Regions from separate parts of the Homo sapiens genome. Here regions 1 and 3 are each reported to be linked to region 2. The links are microRNA targets in miRTarBase. Many come from high-throughput screens and were not tested one by one. Region 2 holds a microRNA gene; each other region holds the end of a gene's coding sequence.
Evidence for each region. Region 2 holds the annotated microRNA hsa-miR-219b-5p (AGAUGUCCAGCCACAAUUCUCG, at 1,393-1,414, shown strand). A microRNA usually pairs through its seed, bases 2 to 8, with sites in the 3' UTR of a target mRNA and lowers its output. Matches are read on the target gene's strand: a 7mer-m8 pairs with bases 2 to 8, a 7mer-A1 pairs with bases 2 to 7 and ends in A, and an 8mer does both.

Region 1: the mRNA of CRISP1 is a reported target of hsa-miR-219b-5p. The part of its 3' UTR that is shown has no 7-base or 8-base seed match.
Region 3: miRTarBase lists TVP23A as a target of hsa-miR-219b-5p. Seed matches in the 3' UTR shown: 7mer-A1 at 2,162-2,168.

Annotation. Positions count from the first base shown.
Region 1 is chr6:49,831,681-49,835,680 of GRCh38, reverse strand. CRISP1 (cysteine rich secretory protein 1) reads left to right here. Exons shown (of 8, transcript NM_001131.3): 8 at 238-1,424. The coding sequence ends at 365. Among named protein-coding and RNA genes, the nearest start is that of CRISP1, 33 kb to the left of the region's middle.
Region 2 is chr9:128,391,242-128,395,361 of GRCh38, forward strand. It overlaps MIR219B (microRNA 219b), which reads left to right and starts at 1,380; the gene lies at 1,380-1,467. It overlaps URM1 (ubiquitin related modifier 1), which reads left to right. Exons shown (of 5, transcript NM_030914.4): 5 at 1-775. MIR219A2HG (MIR219A2 host gene) reads right to left here and starts at 2,260. Exons shown (of 1, transcript NR_186569.1): 1 at 770-2,260. MIR219A2 (microRNA 219a-2) reads right to left here and starts at 1,473; the gene lies at 1,377-1,473. RefSeq lists an enhancer at 1,793-2,498.
Region 3 is chr16:10,766,617-10,770,616 of GRCh38, forward strand. TVP23A (trans-golgi network vesicle protein 23 homolog A) reads right to left here. Exons shown (of 8, transcript NM_001079512.4): 7 at 3,656-3,715; 8 at 59-2,485. The coding sequence ends at 3,656. NUBP1 (NUBP iron-sulfur cluster assembly factor 1, cytosolic) reads left to right here. Exons shown (of 11, transcript NM_002484.4): 10 at 1,333-1,416; 11 at 2,431-2,735. The coding sequence ends at 2,489. Among named protein-coding and RNA genes, the nearest start is that of NUBP1, 25 kb to the left of the region's middle.

The sequences.
Region 1 (4,000 bases), not on the chromosome of region 2:
ACTTAAAAAATTGTGATAAAAACTTGTTTTACACAAAGACAAAAATTTTACCTTTTTCTTTTCATACATGATCTTATCACCTGTTTTGCATTCAGATTTAGTTAGCTTATGCTAATTAAATTTAGTTAGCAATTGTTAATAAAAATTTCTCTTTTTGTCTTTAATAAGATGGTCTCTTTCCTCAGCAAATGCGATTTTTAAAAGACTGTGTTGTAAAACCATACTATTTTCTTTCAGCTAACCCCTGCATCTACTATGATGAATACTTCGACTGTGACATACAAGTCCATTATCTGGGATGCAACCACTCAACAACTATCCTATTCTGTAAAGCCACTTGTCTGTGTGACACTGAGATAAAATAGGTCTTTGTTATTTTCAACTGTTCTATGCTGTGACGATGAGGAGGAGATGTCTGTTGGATTCATGTCTTTTGCTATAGTTCAGTAGCTTCTGCTAAATTTCACTGATTTTAATCATGCTGGAGACCTTAACTCCCATCCTGATACATCCTGAAGTAACACTGTTTTAAACTTTCTTAGTGCTGGAGTAAAAGGTCAAGTCCAACACCTGCCTTAAATTTAAATCATGTGATTTATAGTTTTTAAGTTGGCATAATTCAACTTATGGTATAACTGGGTCCCTCAACAGTAACCTGGGCTAAAATAGGTCTTATGTGGTTCAACTCCCACCCCCGCCTTCCCCATATTTTCAACCACTCTGATTATCTTCCCTGCACAACTAACATCCAGTAATAATTCTTCACTTTTAAAATTTTACTTCTACTTTAAATCAATCATTAAAGGAATCCACAAAGCAAACAGAGTTCAGTCTCATCTTGCAAGGTAAATATCATTTAATTGGAAGTAGTTTAAATGTCTCATTGTTTTATTGACACATCTATATATACATTTGTGAAGCAAGAAACAATAAAAAAGCTTCGTATGCCATTAATTTAACAAAATATGTATTCAGTACTGATTGCATACAAGATGCATGTTTATATATATGGAAGGAATATAGTTTCATTTCATTGCAAAGGCAGTATAAAAGATATATAAAATAGCATAATATGAGAAATTAAGTCCCTAAAGACATATAGGTCACATATTATTATTGCCAGATGAGCATAAATAGCTTCTGTTTGGAGATTCAGGAAAGCCTTAGGGTGGAATGAGGAACATCTTCTGAGTAAACAGGGTTGCAAAGGTTATGATTATTTCAACACAATGGAAGAGCACAGTTAAGGCCAACTAACGTAAAATGCACTGAAGCCTTAGGGAATATTGAAGGGCCTGACATGGGGAAAGGGAAGGCTAAAAATACTTGGTCAAATTTTAACATTATACCAAAGTTATACCCAGTTCTACCTACTTGTATATTTCTTTACTCATTTCAATAAAGTGTTTGAAAAAAAAAAAAAAGACATCACCCACTTTCCAAAAGTAAACAGGTAAGCCATACCTCAAACCCATTCTGCATCATACAGAGGTTCTCGTCACAGGTACAAAAATTCTGTGTGGCTCCAAGAAAAGAGGACAATTTGAGAATGACGCCCTCTTGACATGACCCATGTCTTTCCATTTAGATCTATGGGCATTTCTCCCATGTAAATCCTTCAGACCCATTCTCACTTTTTACTTAAACTACATATGTTAGATCTATCCACTTGATTGTATCTATCTTTTGAGTAATTGTCATTAGCACAATCATGGACATATTAACATCAGGAGAACAGTGACTCATCCTGGGACACAGTAAGTAGGCTGGTACTTTATAGCCGAAATATTTAATAAATGGAACTCATTACAAAAATCAAAGTAATAATTTACTCTAAGAAAATTAAATGTGTGTGCTGTAGAAAATCTTTACTCATTTTTGCATTACCAGGTATTGTGATTTCTCTTACCTCACCAAGGTAGCATTAGATTTTAGAATAATTAAATTAGAGCCCTGAGTTCTGAATTTTGCATGCTAGATAACCAACTAATCCTGCAGTCTACTGTAACATATTGGCAGGCAGTGTTACTGTATTCTTACACTACAATATGCTCTTTCTAGAAATTAACATGATACTTCTCAAAATTTGCATTCCAATCACATCTCTTCCCACTTTGCATAAGAGTAAGCATATTCAAATATTTCTTAAGGGTTGGGGAAGGAGGAGGAAGGGTATGCCTACGTCTAAGGAAAATCAAATAAGCAAGTAACAAAACTTTGACCTCATTTGTCTACATTACCCAAATTTAAATAATATGTTGGCTTATCTCACAATAAATTGTATTTGTTAAATATAAAAAGTATTCCCCCCAAAAAATATCTCAGAGCAAACTGACTGTGTGAAAAGTACCCTGTAATGAAGAAGGTTGGGGGCGGTGGATGACCTCATGTACACCATTCTTCTATTATCTCAAAAGCTTTCAGAATCACACATATTGTTTGGAAAATCATTAAAAAAGCTATTTTAGATGACAGAGAAAAAACTCTTATTTACCATGCAACATCTTTCTAAAAAATGGAAACAGTCTTACACCTCTTTCCAAATGTTATTGAATATAGAATAAATAATAACAAATAATTCTGAAGCAGAAACAATATCCAGTGGCAGTCTGTACTTTCACAGTAGTAAAAGAAAAAAAATAGTTCTAAGTGTGTAATACAAAGATTAAGAGCATGAGCAGAGGTGTCACCCAGCTGGTTTGAATTCAGGACACAACATGTGCTTGCTCTGTGACTTTGAAAAAGATTATTTTTCTTTGTCCTCATCTATAAGTTATAGTAAGAGATAGAACCTACTTCATAAGTTTGTTTTAAGGATTGAATGAGTTAGTATGTAAAATCCTTAGAAAGGTATCTTGTGCTTAAAGTGTGCTCGATAACTATTAGCTGGCATTATTATTCATTCTCTTCAAACTCCAGTCCCTGAGCTCTGCCTTTCAGACATAGTTGAGCGGCACGCTCTGGACTCTTCCCTTTTGTGAACTCAGCAGTGAACATGTGTTATGGTGATAAATGAACAGTCTCTGCCCCAACCCAAATAACATAACAAGTATGGAATAATTTATTAATACAATAAAGGAGCTTTCACAGAAATCTATAGTATAAAACTACCTTTGATTAAAGAAGACATTCAATTTAGTAGAAATACCTGATTTCACCACATTATTTAGTAATTCAATGCAATCAGAATGGAAATATCAAGAAGAGCTTTTATAGAATTTACATGTTTATCCTAAATTCATTTGGAAAATAATTATTCAATAGAGACCACCAAAATTAAAATTAAATTAAAGATGTGTGTTTTGATAAAGATATTTACATATGAGAAAGATAATTTTTGGAAAACAGTATTAAAATACTAGGGCAGGAAATTTGAACAAAATCATGACATGAAATCTTGAAAGTATTTATTTGAAGATAGTAATTTCACTGGAAAACAAAAAAAAATGTATAAAGGCAGAAGTACAGCAAGTGAAAGGTTAAGATTAATTTTTAAATCTTTTAAAAGGTCGATACATAGTTGATCTATGTGACTTATGTATGTTTACATAAATATAGAAAATGAATCTATAGATTGATAATAATGAAAAGTGTTACATTAGAAAAAAAAGGAGAGAAAAACCACCAAATAGGTACAGAAATGCACATGCCATTAAACAGAAAAGTTACCTCTTTCATAATGCAAAAAAGTGTATTCCAAATATAGTTAGGATTATCTTTCTGTCCAGCCAAGAATAAATTAATTATATGTTAAAATCTACCCATCAGAGAAGTGGGAAGAGGCAACCATTTCAATACATCATTAGTGGGAACTAAAAGTTTGTAGAAAGACCCCTATTTAAAGATACCAAGTGATATTAAAAATAACATGGTTTTTGGTTTGTTAGTTTCTCATGAAGGAATGTATTATACTGAAATACTCACATGCAAAAATGTATCTCTATAAAAAGATTTTTACTTAAGCATTATTTATAATAAAGGAAAACCAAATGCTATAAAA
Region 2 (4,120 bases):
AAAGGTTGTCCCAGCAGTGTTGGGGGATGGGGTGTGCACATCATTCTTTTGGGGGTAGATGACCTGCTGGCTGGTGGGCTTTTCTCCAGGACTACTGCAGGTAGAGACCCTCTGGGCTTGTGTGGAGTGGGAGCAGCCGTGTTGGGACTATGGGGAGGAGCTGGTCTGGGTGCAAATTAAGGCCAGTGTTGGGGTCTGAGTGCTGTCCAGAAAGGCTGTGTGACCAACCCTCACTAGTTCCTGAGGTCAGGGTCTCCATGTTAGGGAACAGAGCAAGAGACTTGGAACAGCTCCCTACAGCTGCACTTCTAGAAGGTCAGCCTGTCCGATTCTTGTAACCTGGAGGTCCCTCCCCATCTGCAGCCCCCTGAGCTGCAGGAGCGGCCCCATCAGTGCACCTGATTGGAACACACTAGATTTCAGGTCCTGGAAACTGGGCGCTAGGATCCGTTTCCCTGGCTGCAGAGAGTGGGAGGTGTGATGTGGAATATCCCTTCTCCCAGCACACCCCAATTAATACTGAAGAGTAGGGCAGGAGGAGGTGCTGGGAAAACCGGGTTTCTTGGCACATGGGGGTGCAAGCACTGTGGTTGAAATTGGCCATGTCCAAGGCACACCAGACGATTTCAGGTCATTTTTAGCCCTAGACTGGAAAGGGGTCAGGGGACAGGTGACCTGGGCTCAGCCCCCAGCAGCTCCCAACTGCCCCTCTCCCAAGCAACTCCTGATCCCTGCTTTTGAGGAAATAAACAAATAAAACCCCGCTATCTCCGAAGATTTTTCTTTAATGAAAAGGATTCGTTTTTCCAAATTCTATTTCCAAAGCCGAGGAGATTGCCGGGCTGGAGCGCATCGTTGGTGACGCTTGCCCGTCGGACCCTGGCAGCGGCTGGAGGAGGCTCAGCCCATCGGTCCGTCCGGAGGGGCTTGCGGGAGGGGTTGGTTTGTTTGGGATTTAGGGGTTGGTTGAGGATTTGTTTTGTTTAGGTAGGGAGTATTGGGGTGATAAGTTAGAACAACTGCGAAACGAGTTAGCGGGCGCATTCGGCCGGCCTCTTCTTTCACCCCCGACTTCATGCGGCTTGGGCTGAGGGCGGACCACATTCGGCCCCGCCGCTGCGTGCCGGCTTCGTTCCGGCCGAAATTTGAAAGGAGGAAAAACGACGCGATCGACTGAAGGACCCTGCCGGCCGGGACTGGTCACCCGCAGAGAAGGAAGAAGGACGAGGATGCGGATGGCGGCGCTGGTGGCAGGGACCGGCGTCTCTGTGCGCGCGGGCCGGGACCGCGATCCTCGCGCTGGGGCCAGCCAGCCGCCGCCCCGAGAGGTCTCGCCCGCGCTGAGCCCTGTCCCTGGGGCCCCCGCCCCTGTTGCGCCCGGAGCTCAGCCACAGATGTCCAGCCACAATTCTCGGTTGGCCGCAGACTCGTACAAGAATTGCGTTTGGACAATCAGTGGCGAAGCCCCTGAGTTCAGGGCCCTGGTCTCCTGCGGGGTTCCCCTTCGCTCCTAAAAAGCGCCAGTCCAGGACAGCTCGGAGCTGCGCGTCGGACCACCTAGCAGGCGCTCAGCAGCGGCTGCCCATCCGGCGGTAAGGTGGACTAGCAAGCACGCGGATCCTGACCCTGTGCGGGGATCCCCATCGCCCCTGGCGTGGCTCCTTCGATCGCGGCCCGGAGTCCGCAGAGTGGCCCGCGTTGGGTCTCAGCGCCGCCCCAGGTCGAGGGGGAATCTCCTCTGTCTGGCCTGGGGAACCCCGACTCCCCTCTCCCTGCCCCCAGCCTGGGATCTCCGGGAATCCGGAAGGCAGGAGCCCCAGGCCGGGTCGCGTTTCCGAGCCCGGGGTCCGGGCTGCTGGATTCGTGGGTCCCCCGCCCCCGCCCAGCCCCGCGCACGCACCGGCTCGGGCGCTCTCCGCTTTCCTGTGGCTGAGTCGCGGCCGGGGCGCCTGCGGTGGCGGTGGCGGCGGTGGCCCGGGCGGCGGGGAGTGCTGGAATGCGCCGCCGGGTCACCTGCAGCGCCCGTGGAGCCGGACTGGGAGCCGGCGGGCTGCCGAGGCGCAAGGCTGAACCCGAGCAGGCGCCTCTGGCGGCTCGGGGCCGGGGCGGGCTTTTAGTGGGCCGCTCCAACAATACGGGCCTGGCGCGGAGAAAGGGGCTCGGCTGCAATTGGTACTGGATTTGAATAACGCCACGGGGCCATCAATGGTCATTGTGTCGGCGGGTAATGAATCTCCGCTGTCTCTCGGGCTGGCCAGGCAGCTGCAACCTGCGCTCAGGCAGCTCTTAAAGACATAGCGTGCCCCTCCCCGGGGGCCGCCTCCCCCTCTGCACCGGCCGGACCCCTCGTCCTCCCACCCCCACTCGGCACCCTCAACTCCCGATGCCCCGCCTGCTCCCTCGGCCTGACCCCTTTGCCCATCGCCCCCTCCCTTCTCCTGGGCCAGGCACCAGCATCCCGGCCCTGCTCTCCCGTGGACCTGACTCAGGCCCCGGCCTTGGCTGAGCTCTCCAAGAGCACCCAGGGCACCCCAGAGTCTTTTACGGCCCACCCCCTGTCTCCCAGCTGCATGGAAACCAAAGGCCTCTGGAGCCCCCTCCCTAGGCCCCTGCCCAGGGGCTTCCACTGGAGGGTGAGGGGGAACAGTCTGGAAGTCAGAGGGTCACCCCCTGAGAAGACCATGCTGAAGGATAAAGGAGAAGGGGGTACAGTCCCCACCCCTGGGCTGAGGATGCCATCCCTGGAGACCACACCCCACGCGGGAGCTGGAGCCTGCCCCCTCCCCCGACCAAGGACCAGAGCTTGATTCCCAGGCTCCAGCAGGCTCCTGGGTACCTCGGGGCTAGCAGCAAGGGTGGGGGGAGGGGAGCAGGTGGGTGTGAGAGGGGCGTGGAATCTGTGAATGCTTGTCTTGTCATTGTCTCTTCCATTGGACAGTCCACCCATCCAGGAGAGCAGGGGCTCTGTCCAAGGTCTAATGCGCCCCCAGCCCCACCCCCAGCCTGGTCTGGCAGAGACGGTTCTCAGTCTATTGGGTAAATACATAGCCAGCTTCTCACCCCCAAAGCCCAGCCTGTCTTTCCCAATGAACCTCACACCCTAAAGTGGGAGTGTGTGGCCATTTTTCCCATACAGCCTGCCTTCCATTCACCCCAGAGTTCTCCAAGCACCCAGAATACCCCTGCCTCTGTCCTGGCACACCAAGCTGCCTTGCTCTGAAATGCTCTCCTGTCCTCACAATCTCTGGGTGGCCTTGCCACGTGCCCGGCTGAATTGTGAATATCGGTTTGTCTGAGTCTCCTCCCTAGGACAGGAAACGGGTCCTACGGATCTTTGTGCCTCCAGGGCCTAGTACAGTGCCCTCCCCCCAACCAATCATTAAATATCTGTGGGTGGTTGCACGCATGCCCGGTGACTTTAAAATGAGCCACATAGACTTCTTGGAGTTTCTTATAAAAGTTGAAAGAATGTTGCTTGTGGGAGGTAATTCTTGCAGCCCGGGTTTTACAGGGAGGGAGTCCTGCTAACCAGATCCCAACTCCTGGGAATGCTCCATTTGGTAATAATAACAGCAAAGAGTGTATTGTGTGCCAAGCACTAAGCTCTTTGAAGGTAGTAGCTCACTGATTCCTCACAACAACCCTGGAAAGTAAGTGCTGTTATCAGCCCCATTTTACAGATGAAGAAACTGCAGAGCCCTCCTTCCTTAGGCTCCTCCCTGGAGCTTCCAGCTGGAGAGGGAGGGGGAGCATTCTGGAGGTCACAGGGTCACTCCCTGAGAAGACCATGCTGGAGGATAAGACAGAAGGCATGCAGCCCCAATCCCCAACCTCCAGAGACCGCACCCACTAGGGATCTAGAAACCCAGAGCTTTAGGACTTGCTGCACACTCTAGTTTCCAAGCCTTTATTTAGTGGGTACAGAGGGGATGGATGTAAATGCACTTAAAACGGCTAGACCCAGGAGACACTCTGTGTCACCTTATATTAATACATTATAATCCAGTCCCAGCCCACCCCAGCCTGGCATGAACACAACCAAGATGGACTGGGCAACAATAGTCTCTGATTACCAGGTGCCATGGCTGGTGTCCATAATCCCAACACTTTGGGAGGCCGA
Region 3 (4,000 bases), not on the chromosome of region 2:
GGCGGAGGATGTCCAGGTTCTTGGTGTCTGGAACAAAAAATTGGACAAAACGCACAAAGAAAGGAAGGAAGGAAGGGATTTATTGAAAATGAAAGTCAACTCCACGGTGTGGGAGGAGAACGGGCCTGAGAATAGGGGCTCAAAGGCCCCATTACAGAGTTTTTGTGTTTAAATACCCTCTACTTGAGGTACGCCCTATATAAACGAAAAGGATGAAGTAAAGTTACAAAGTCATTTACGGCATACGTCCTATGGAGAGGACATTTCCTGTTATGGCTCAAGTGCGAATTGGCCTTATGTTCCCTGCCTCTGGACCCTATTTTCCTGACTCACTGGGCCATATGGGCTCCCCATCTCCCACCAACCCCTCCCCACAGGCTTCTTCCCCGACTTGGACTTCCCTGTCCCACAGGGCGACACAGTAGTGAAGTTGAGGAAATGATGAGTGCTAGGTAGGAACCCCTCCTGGGGTTCACCTGAGGCTGGTGACCGGCCATGGGCAGTGCAGTCACTTGCCTGTTTCGCCAGCAGCTCAGGCCTGGGGAGTGGGCAGAGCAAGCTGATGGCAGGTCCACCCACGACTGGGGGCTGGCAGGGCAGACTGGAGGCGAGAACACCCCCATTGACCCCTAGCCCCTTGTGTCCTGTCCACCTGGCTCTGGGATAACATGGTCCTAGAGAAACCTGGGTGTGCATAGGAGGGGACTGGAACAATGGCCACATGGCGGGGAAAGACTAGCAGACTGATAGACACCAGCACAGATGACCTGGAAGATAAAATTATACACAGACAAAGCAGCAGGCAGAATGTGTGTGTCATGTGCTCCCATTCGTATTTTAGGTATATGAGAGTGTGTGTATGTGTGTGCGCACACATGCAAGTGTGCACATTTATATGCGCATAATCTTTCTGGAAAGACACCTAGAACACTAGTAGCCCTTTTCGGACTTGGCCTTTTATGCCATATCCTTTTGCATTCTGTACTTTTTTTAACCATGTGCATTCATGATCCTTTCACTCAAAAGCTAATCTCTTAAAATGCAGACTCCTGGGCCCATGTGGAAGCTGCTGAATCAGTTCTCTGTAGGGCCCTGGAACCTGCATTTTCTGTACACCACCTGATTATTTAGCCACGCTGAAATGCTGGCTGGGGACCCTGCTGGAAGGAAGGTCCCTGAGACCCCACTGGTCTTTTCTACTTTGTTCTTCATTACGAGTGAAGCGGGCTCAAGATCTTCCCATTGTCACCAGCACGGAAAGAGCCCCAAGATCTTGTGGCCATTCTGTTTTCCTCTTGGACTGAATTGTCTTCCGTTTGTTTCTTTTTTAAGGTAAGAATTGTGACAAAGGCCAGTCTTTTTTCATTGACGCCCCAGATTCCCCAGCCACGTTAGCCTACAGAAGTATAATTCAGAGTAAGTATTTCCATGAGTACTAAATGCAGATGCCTGTGGGGCAGGAAGCAACATAAAGGAGCCAGGGGTGTGGAAGGACAGGTGGGTGGTGGGGTCTGTGATGACCACAGAGTGGCCCCCATAGCCGAGGAAGCCAGGAGTCCATGAGAAATCTCTCAATGTGTGAGTATTGTGAATTAATTCATAGTTTAAAAAACATGGTGAGGGTGAAATTTATGGCTTAGGAAATACATCCCAATAAAGGGATAAAGTAATTCATTTTTAAAAGTAACTGATAAAAAAAAAAAAGGCCAGGTGCAGTGGCTCACACCTGGAATCCCAGCACTTTGGGTGAAGGAGGCAGGCAGATCACTTGAGGCTGGTCAGGAGTTCAAGACCAGCCTGGCTAACATGGAGAAACACTGTCTCTACTAAAAATATGAAAATTAGCCGGGTGTGGTGGCGCATGCCTGTAGTCCCAGCTACTCAGGAGGCTGAGGCAGGAGAATCGCTTGAACCTGGGAGGCGGAGGCTGCAGTAAGGCGAGATCGCGCCACTGCACTCCAGCCTGGGCAACAGCGTGAGACCGTGTCTCAAAAAAATAAAAAATAAAAATAAAAACTTTGTTGAGCCAGACCAAACCCACGTGCAGGCCACATTCAGCCAGTGGCAGCCATCAGAGGCCCCAGAGTTAGGGCAGAGGTGTCAGTGTTTGTTAAAGCTGTGGTCTCTGAGTTTGTGGCTGGGTTTTACTTGCCTAGAAGAATGATGTCAAGGGTAAGGAAACAGCATTCCCAGAATCCTCCATCTATAGATGGTCCGAGGAAGGCCGCAGCCACTGGTTATGAGCAAGATGGGTAGTGTGAGGTATTCCGGTCACTTTCAAAGACTCAGGGCATCACAGACACAGGTCTTTTTATGGAACTAGCCAGAGGATTCCACCCCTGTCAAAACACAGCCCTCCCCAGCACAGGACAGGGCTGTCAAGGGGTAGACAAGCCATTAGCACTCTATGCCTGTCGTCTTGTTTTCCAGGAATCCAAGAGTTTTGTAATCTCCATCAGTCAAAAGAAGAGAACCTCATCAGTTCCTGAAACGAGAGAATGTTCAGGACCAAGCAGTTACCGAGCGAGGCACTCACTGGGCAGCACATCCAGCCAGACCCGACCAGCTCCGGGATGGGGTGGGTCACAGCAAAAGGACCAGATGCTGGTGTGGTCCGAAGCCACTTTCTCAGAGACACTTTAATCATTGAGTATTTGTACACTTTTCTTTAGAACATATATAAAGGGCATTCTCTACAAATGTGCCGTTTTAAGAATAAAACCCCCTCAAATCTCTCCCCCGAGGCCTGTTTCACGTAAAAAACAAATGGGTTGTGGGATCGTGGGATTCTGCTGTGTCGGAAGCTTAGTCGATTGTAGAAACTCCCGTTTAAGCCATTTCTGCCTGTGAAGATAAGAAAGCCTAGAAAAGAACCAAAGGGGTGAGTGTGCGGCTTCACTGCAGAACACACAGGCTTGTTTTCAAACACCACAGTCCAAACGCTTTTCTTCAGATTGAGGAAAAATCTAAAAGCAACAGAGCTCAGGCTGGGCTTCGTTCTAAAATCACTGCATATGACACAGCTGGGTCAAATCAAAAAGCCCTTGAAGAGTCCTTGAATCACCCAGTAAGACAGAATGTGGGGTCTGTGTAAATTCCCTGTGTAGTAATATGTGCACAGTATATCCAGTAATGTCCAGTGTCATGCAAACCAACTTTCAGGTTTTTTAATTATATAAAAAAGAGGGACAGATGTAAACTCTACGATCATCCTCTTTGCCATGAGGTGCTTGCTCTGTTTGAGACACACAGGATCTGAGACCACGTGGGAGAAGAGTAAATTCCTGTTTTCCCTCCACTCTGGGGCATAAAAGTGGGTGGGTGGGAAACAAGAACAAATCCCCTTGTTCTTTCCCTCCCTTGTCTCTTCCCTCCCCGCCCTTCCCTAGGACCATACATATGATCAGATTTGCACATGTTCAGTGTGAGGAAGGTGTGACCTCGCCCCCCGACCCCCAGCTCCTCACGCCAAGAGCAATGAGGCTGCAAAGCCCAGGGCAGGCCCATTGCCCAGTCTGCTTCCTGCCTGGTCACATGCCTGGCCACCCCAGGGAACAGGGGAAGCCCACCCAGACCCCGGGCCCCTGTGCCCCAAGAGCTGCATTTTTCAGAATTCCCCAGTTCCTCCACACGGGTGCCATGATCCATTTCTCACCTAATGCTGGTGAATCTCCAGCCCCTCGAGGCCAGGCTTCTGAAAGTCACCTGGGCAGGCCTGCAAGGGGAAAAGTCAACCATGGTTTTCTGTCCTTACACGCGAGTGGGGCGATCCTGCTGATGGAAGGCCAGAGAAAACCCACAAAGTACAGAAAACCTGCGGAATTGGTTGCTTGATGTCTTGGCATAAAGCAGTGCTGTTCAAATTTAGGACGGTTCTACCCATTTCAGGATGAACCTGGTCAAATTTCAAAGACTTCTGTCTCTCACTTTTAGAAATATCTATTAAGTTAAAAAAAAAAAACAAAACAAAAACAAGCTGGGCACGGTAGCTCCCGCCTGT